Regions from separate parts of the Homo sapiens genome. Here region 2 is linked to region 1. The links come from fine-mapping of genetic effects on gene expression. A gene starts in region 1. The other region holds a variant in brackets. All regions are shown on one strand. Distances are from middle to middle. Region 1 holds the start of STARD3NL (STARD3 N-terminal like). Region 2 overlaps STARD3NL (STARD3 N-terminal like).

Region 1 (2,921 bases):
GACTCAGCTAAACATTCAGCTATCACCCAAAATGTCACCTCGTGTTACCTCCTTAGGGAGGTCTTCCCTGACCATCCCATTTCTCCATACAACCCAGTCACTCTCAAACTCTCTACCCAGTAGTATCTTTTCTGACATTTATTCCTATCTAAACTTGTCTCTTTGATTTACATGTTTATTATATTCTCCAACAAAAGTTAAAGTCTTTGAGGGTATGGGCCTTATCTAAATTGCTCACTACTCAATCTCTAAAACCTAAAACAATGAGTGGCATAGACAATCACTCAGGCAAACTGTCCATTGAATAAATCCAAATGATGTTAATCACCATCCTTCTGTGAACATAAGTAAGGTAATATCCCTCAGAGGCTGTTTCATTTCATTTCTTTCATGCAGTTTTAGGCAATGCAATAATGCAGTTTTAAAAGACCAATGTTTGAGACAGTTAGATTTTAAAGACAGTGACTTCTACACGACAACATATTGTATGTTTTCATTTTATGAACATGAATAATCCACCACCTTATCAGAATCCATCAATAAAACAAGGATACCATAAGTCGTTTTGTGAGATCCTGCTTCTAGAAAGAGGCGTATGGGTAGATATGGTATACAGACGGGAATTACCTTTCAGAATTCTTCCTAACAAGGAAATGTGGCAAACTGGACTAATTCCAGTAAAGATTTAATTAGACCCGTTACTTGGTTACCTTGCTAAACTTATCCAAACTAGTACTGTGTCAAGTGATGAATTCAGTGATTCCATCTGTGAAATAGAAGACAAATGACACAGTGAACAAAGAAAAGTTCCACAATGTCCACCCATGTTTGAACTAAAAGAGAGGGGGAAAAATCCCTAACCCTAAATCAAAAGTATTCAAGCAACTAAGATTTCAAACAATGGCGAGATATCTACGAGTAGGTGAAGCAGTTAACTGAAACCACAGGGAGAACATTCATGATTCGTGCTTTCTTTCTTTTTTTTTTTTTTGAACACGACTTTTCTCAATGAATAGAAGAGACTCACAACCGCCTGTGTCTGGACAACCCACGCATTACACCCAGTCACCAATTCTTGGTCCTTCTTGGGGGCCCATGGCGCCAGCCCGGGGCCGACCCCACCGGGGACTCCTCAGGGTCCGCAGGCTGGAGGAATGAGGACACTCCCGCTACCTATATCCATCCCTGAATCCCGGCCCACGCCGTGGGAGCAGCGGGGCTCAGCATTCTGCAACTTCACTCTTGTGTCCATTATGAGCACAGCCTGCCTCGCCCCTCCTCCTCCCCTGGAGGCTCGCGCAGGACTCAGGAAACAGAACAGGACCAGGATATGGCCTCCGTCCGCGGGTCCCCTGTACGCCCCCATGTAAGTCATCTGACCCAGGAGACTCAGTTTTCCAACCTGTCAAATAGGGGAACGAGAAACCCAGCCTACCTTAACGGGTGGTTCCTGGCCGGCCGCCCCAGGCTGGCCCGGGAACTGCGGATCCGCGGTCGCGCCCCGGCCTGAGGGGCGGGGCTTGGCGGGGCGTGACCGGGACCCAGTCCAGCGGACAACGCGCAGCCCACCGCCCGCACCCAGCAGCCCCGGGACCTCCGGCCCGTGACGTCAGCACGCTGACGTCGACGCACACAGCTCGCATCTCGCTCGAGGGACCAAAGACCCGACTGGTTCCTGAGTGCCTCCATAGAGGAGCCAACCTATTGGCCAGATGACATGTCAATCTTCTACTGACCAGTAAACGACGCGGGAAGGAGGGAGAGGGCGAGCCGGTCTGCCTGTAGGAATGGGTGGGAAATCTGGGCATCCAGCTTTGAAACACGGAGCTGGTTGGACTTTCCCGCATTGTGCATCGCACGGTTTAACAAGCGCCCGCTTCCTCTTCGTCCGCGTTTCTGCGCCTTCCGCTTCCCTTCAGTTATTCGGTGGGGGTTTATGCTCCAGCTCGTGGGAAAATGTCATGGAAATGGGTTTCAGGGCCTCTTGGGCACCTCATGCTGAGCCCTCCAGGAATAAAAACAGGGCATACCATTTCTATGTCGGTACTCAGCTCAAGAGTCACCTCTTCTAACTCTCACTTCCCCCAGACCTATTTAGGATACCTTTTCTCAGCGCTCCTAGTTCATAACTAACATCTCTAAGCGGTAGTCACATTTAATTATATCTATATGTCTGTTTTCACACGAAGTTAGGCACCTTTTATTGTTTTATTTAAAATTTAATTAAACTTTTCTCCCAACGGATGCTACACTTATTCACATTTTTAGAAGTACAGAGGTATACAGTGAACATTCTTTGGATCCCCATTTCATTATTTGTATATTTTTCCAAAGTCATTCTAAGTACCGTTATTAATTTTAAATTACACAAGTAAGATTTTGTCCATGCGAAAAAAAAAAAAAGCTTAAACGTTACAATTATGCTTATATCCCTTTTAGGCCCTAATTACAAACCCAGTCTGTAGATGATGACTCCTAGTTCCTGTGCATTTGCAAGTGTAGATGTTACTTTTTTACACTTAGCATTGAAATCTTTCCATATCTGTATATAAATCTACCTCATTCTCTGAAAATGCTGCATGTCCTCAGAACCAATATGTGTATATATATACATACATAATTAATGTACCATTCCCCCACCCTCACGTTTGTTTATTAATATTATTATGAGAAGCAATGGTACCATAAATATATATGTAGATGCCTTTTTGTACTTAGGTCCAAGTATTTCTCTAGAGTGCAGATACCAACAAGAGAATGTACTGGATCACAGAGTTTGCACGATGTAAATCCTTAATAGATTTCACTGATTTGCTCCCCTGAGTAGTTGTTTTAACTTACATTCCCACTGCTAGTATTTGAGCAATTTTTCCCTGTATCCTCGCCAATACTGATAAAATACAATTTAAAAAAATTTTATA
Region 2 (2,861 bases), 52 kb before region 1:
AACTGAATGTCTCGGTATAAAACCCGATTGTACATTTGTTCAAGTCTGAGATAGGAGAAAAGCTGCCCTGTGGCAGGAGGTGAGACATGTTTGCAATAATACTGCCTTGTTATTCTTTACTCCACTGAGATGTTTGGGTGGAGAGAAACATAAATCTGGCCTACGTGCACGTCCAGGCATAGTACTTTCCCTCGAACTTAATTATGATATAGATTCTTTTGCTCACGTTTTTTGTTGACCTTCTCCTTATTATCACCCTGCTCTCCTACTACATTCCTTTTTGCTGAAATAATGAAAATAATAATGAACAAAAACTGAAGACACTCAGAGGCCGGTGCCGGTGCAGGTCCTTGGTGTGCTGAGCACCGGTCCCCTGGGCCCACTATTGTTTCTCTATACTTTGTCTCTGCGTCTTATTTCTTTTCTCAGTCTCTCGCCCCACCCGACTAGAAATACCCACAGGTGTGGAGGGGCAGGCCACCCCTTCAGAAGTGACTTGATATGCACAAAAGGTCAGTTTCTACCCAAGCCAGCATCATCACCACTACAGGCAATTAGGTTTTTCTTCAATGACACAATGAATGATGAAAGAAAACTAACAGACATCCTGACTTCCCTTGAGTCAAGGGGAATATTCATGTTTGAAAAAACAGCACACAGTATAATTTAGTTCATTTTAATTGAAATTGGCTGAACGCAAAGGAAACATGATATGAATGGTTTAAGTCATTTTGTGCATTCAAAATAAGAGTATTTAGAACATTTCAGAACAATCAGAGAAAAACATGATTTCATGATAAAAATAATACAAATGTCTGGTGACATTTTACATGTATTCGCAATTCCTTTCTTCCCCTTTTGCAAGTCCAACACTTCAGGCCATACACATAATGCAAAACAAGAAAAATAAAACTAGCCACATTGACATGTCAGATTTTATTACACTTTTTAAAACTGTACAAAGAGCACATGTGCATGAGTTAAAAAACAAGGGAAATGTAGAGTGTTAAAAAAGAAATACAAAATAAATCTGAGACATGAAACAAAAAAATTCCATTCTGTGAATTGAAATAAAAAGGTATCTTGCTTACTAAAAAAGTGTTACTTCAATATATTAAGTCTTTTGATTAGGAATACAGCACAAGACTTTCTTCACCTATTTGTTAACACATCAGGCTCAGTCTCACTGAAGAGAGGATGAATCATGACATTACCTTACCAGCCACAGGCAGGCAACTAAATGTGCATGGATATGGTACAACGTCTGTGAGGTATTACAATAAATAAATCTTTATTAGC[TG/G]TTCAATAAAGCCAGCAGTGGACGTCACCATTTCAACTTTACTGTCGACAGGGAGACTCCACTGCCTGCCTCTTTTTGCCTCGATGACTTTCTGTGAGGGTTTTTCACACTTAGAAAAAGAGAGAAGACAAAAGTATTTAATAAATAGCATTAAAAGGCAAAATGCCACGGTCACCTTACATGTACATAAAAGTCTGTGTGCTGAAGAGGGGCTGTGACAGACACACGAAGGACCATGCGTGTGGTCACATTAGAATTCATGTTAAAACATTTTAGAAAAGGCTCAACTACGAGCATGCCCACATTTTTGCTTCGCGTCTACATGACTGTGGTGGAGAGATGCGGCTGAGGTGTGCTGGGGGCTGAGGAGGCAGGCACTGGGGCTCCATGCGCCGTGACCTTGGCTACCTCTCCCACCCAGTCAGCTTCTATCCCAGCTTCCCAATGACTCACAATCTGGCAGCTTTTTCCTTCTGTGGTTAAACTGTCAGGCAGATTTGCTGCTACTACAATTTACTTCAATTGCCTTCTATTTATGAGGTTAAAATGATTTTCTTTGATGACTTAAAGGGATTTAACAATGTGTTCCACTTTGGAGCCCATTAAGCATGACTGCTTTGGATGTACAGCAGCTTTCATCTCAGAGGCTCCAAAATCCTTGAGAAATGTCCCAGTGAGGGGCTGCAGTGGACCTGGTACCAGAAAGTGTGGGCCTGAGCCCCAGCGCTGCCTCGTCTAGCTGTGCAACCTTGGATAAGTGACCCATTCTATGTCTCTGCTGCTTCAAATGTAAAATGGAGGTGATAACAGCACCTGCATCTCACAGGACTGCTGTCCTCTTAACATAGATTAGTACCTGTCATTAAAACAATGACATGTGACTGGCATGTAGACATTCTGGCTAAGTAAATTAACATAAATTCATCTCTATTCTTTAGAAATTTAGAAATCTGAGGTATTTTCAAAACCTTATAAATGTATACCTGTATAAAAAATGTTAAGACACTTGGCATTAATAAAATGTGACTGATAAATTCATGCAAGTAAGATAACTCTGGCTATCCTTACACTCTTATTCTTTGAATTCTACTTTGACTCTACTCAAAGGAAATCTCCATACTTAACTACTTTGTTGTTATGGTTTCATTTCAAACACTTACTTTAACAAAAGTAGTACTCATAGTTCTAAAAGTGGTTTCTCACTGTCCTGTTTTTCTTCAGCTTCTTCAGATCCTACGTGGTGGAGAAGGGGACAAAGAAAAAGTATTTCATTCCATTACAGTAACAAACTATTTTAAATAAATAGGTTTAAAATTATAACATATACACATAAAAACATTAAACATATGTTTAATCCTCAAGAGATTTAGGTTAACTGCTATTTGAAAGCTTTATTTATTTCTTGTAACAGGAAAACCTTTAAACAATAATCTATCACTTACACTAATCTGTCAAAATGGATTTCACTTATGTACTAAGAATATTCATGCAGACCAATAACTATTATCAATCACTATTCTTCCTCTGCCTCTTTGCTGACAAGCTTGCATATATTTTTTTA

What was found.
Region 2: its variant is fine-mapped to the expression of STARD3NL in whole blood (TOPMed, PIP above 0.99).

The regions. Positions count from the first base shown.
Region 1 is chr7:38,176,935-38,179,855 of GRCh38, reverse strand. STARD3NL (STARD3 N-terminal like) reads right to left here and starts at 1,611. Exons shown (of 9, transcript NM_032016.4): 1 at 1,436-1,611. RefSeq lists a silencer at 1,355-1,634 and an enhancer at 1,885-1,964.
Region 2 is chr7:38,228,471-38,231,331 of GRCh38, reverse strand. It overlaps STARD3NL (STARD3 N-terminal like), which reads right to left. Exons shown (of 9, transcript NM_032016.4): 8 at 2,461-2,533; 9 at 663-1,409. The coding sequence ends at 2,478. Among named protein-coding and RNA genes, the nearest start is that of TARP, 44 kb to the left of the region's middle. The variant TG/G (reference allele first, on the strand shown) is at 1,300.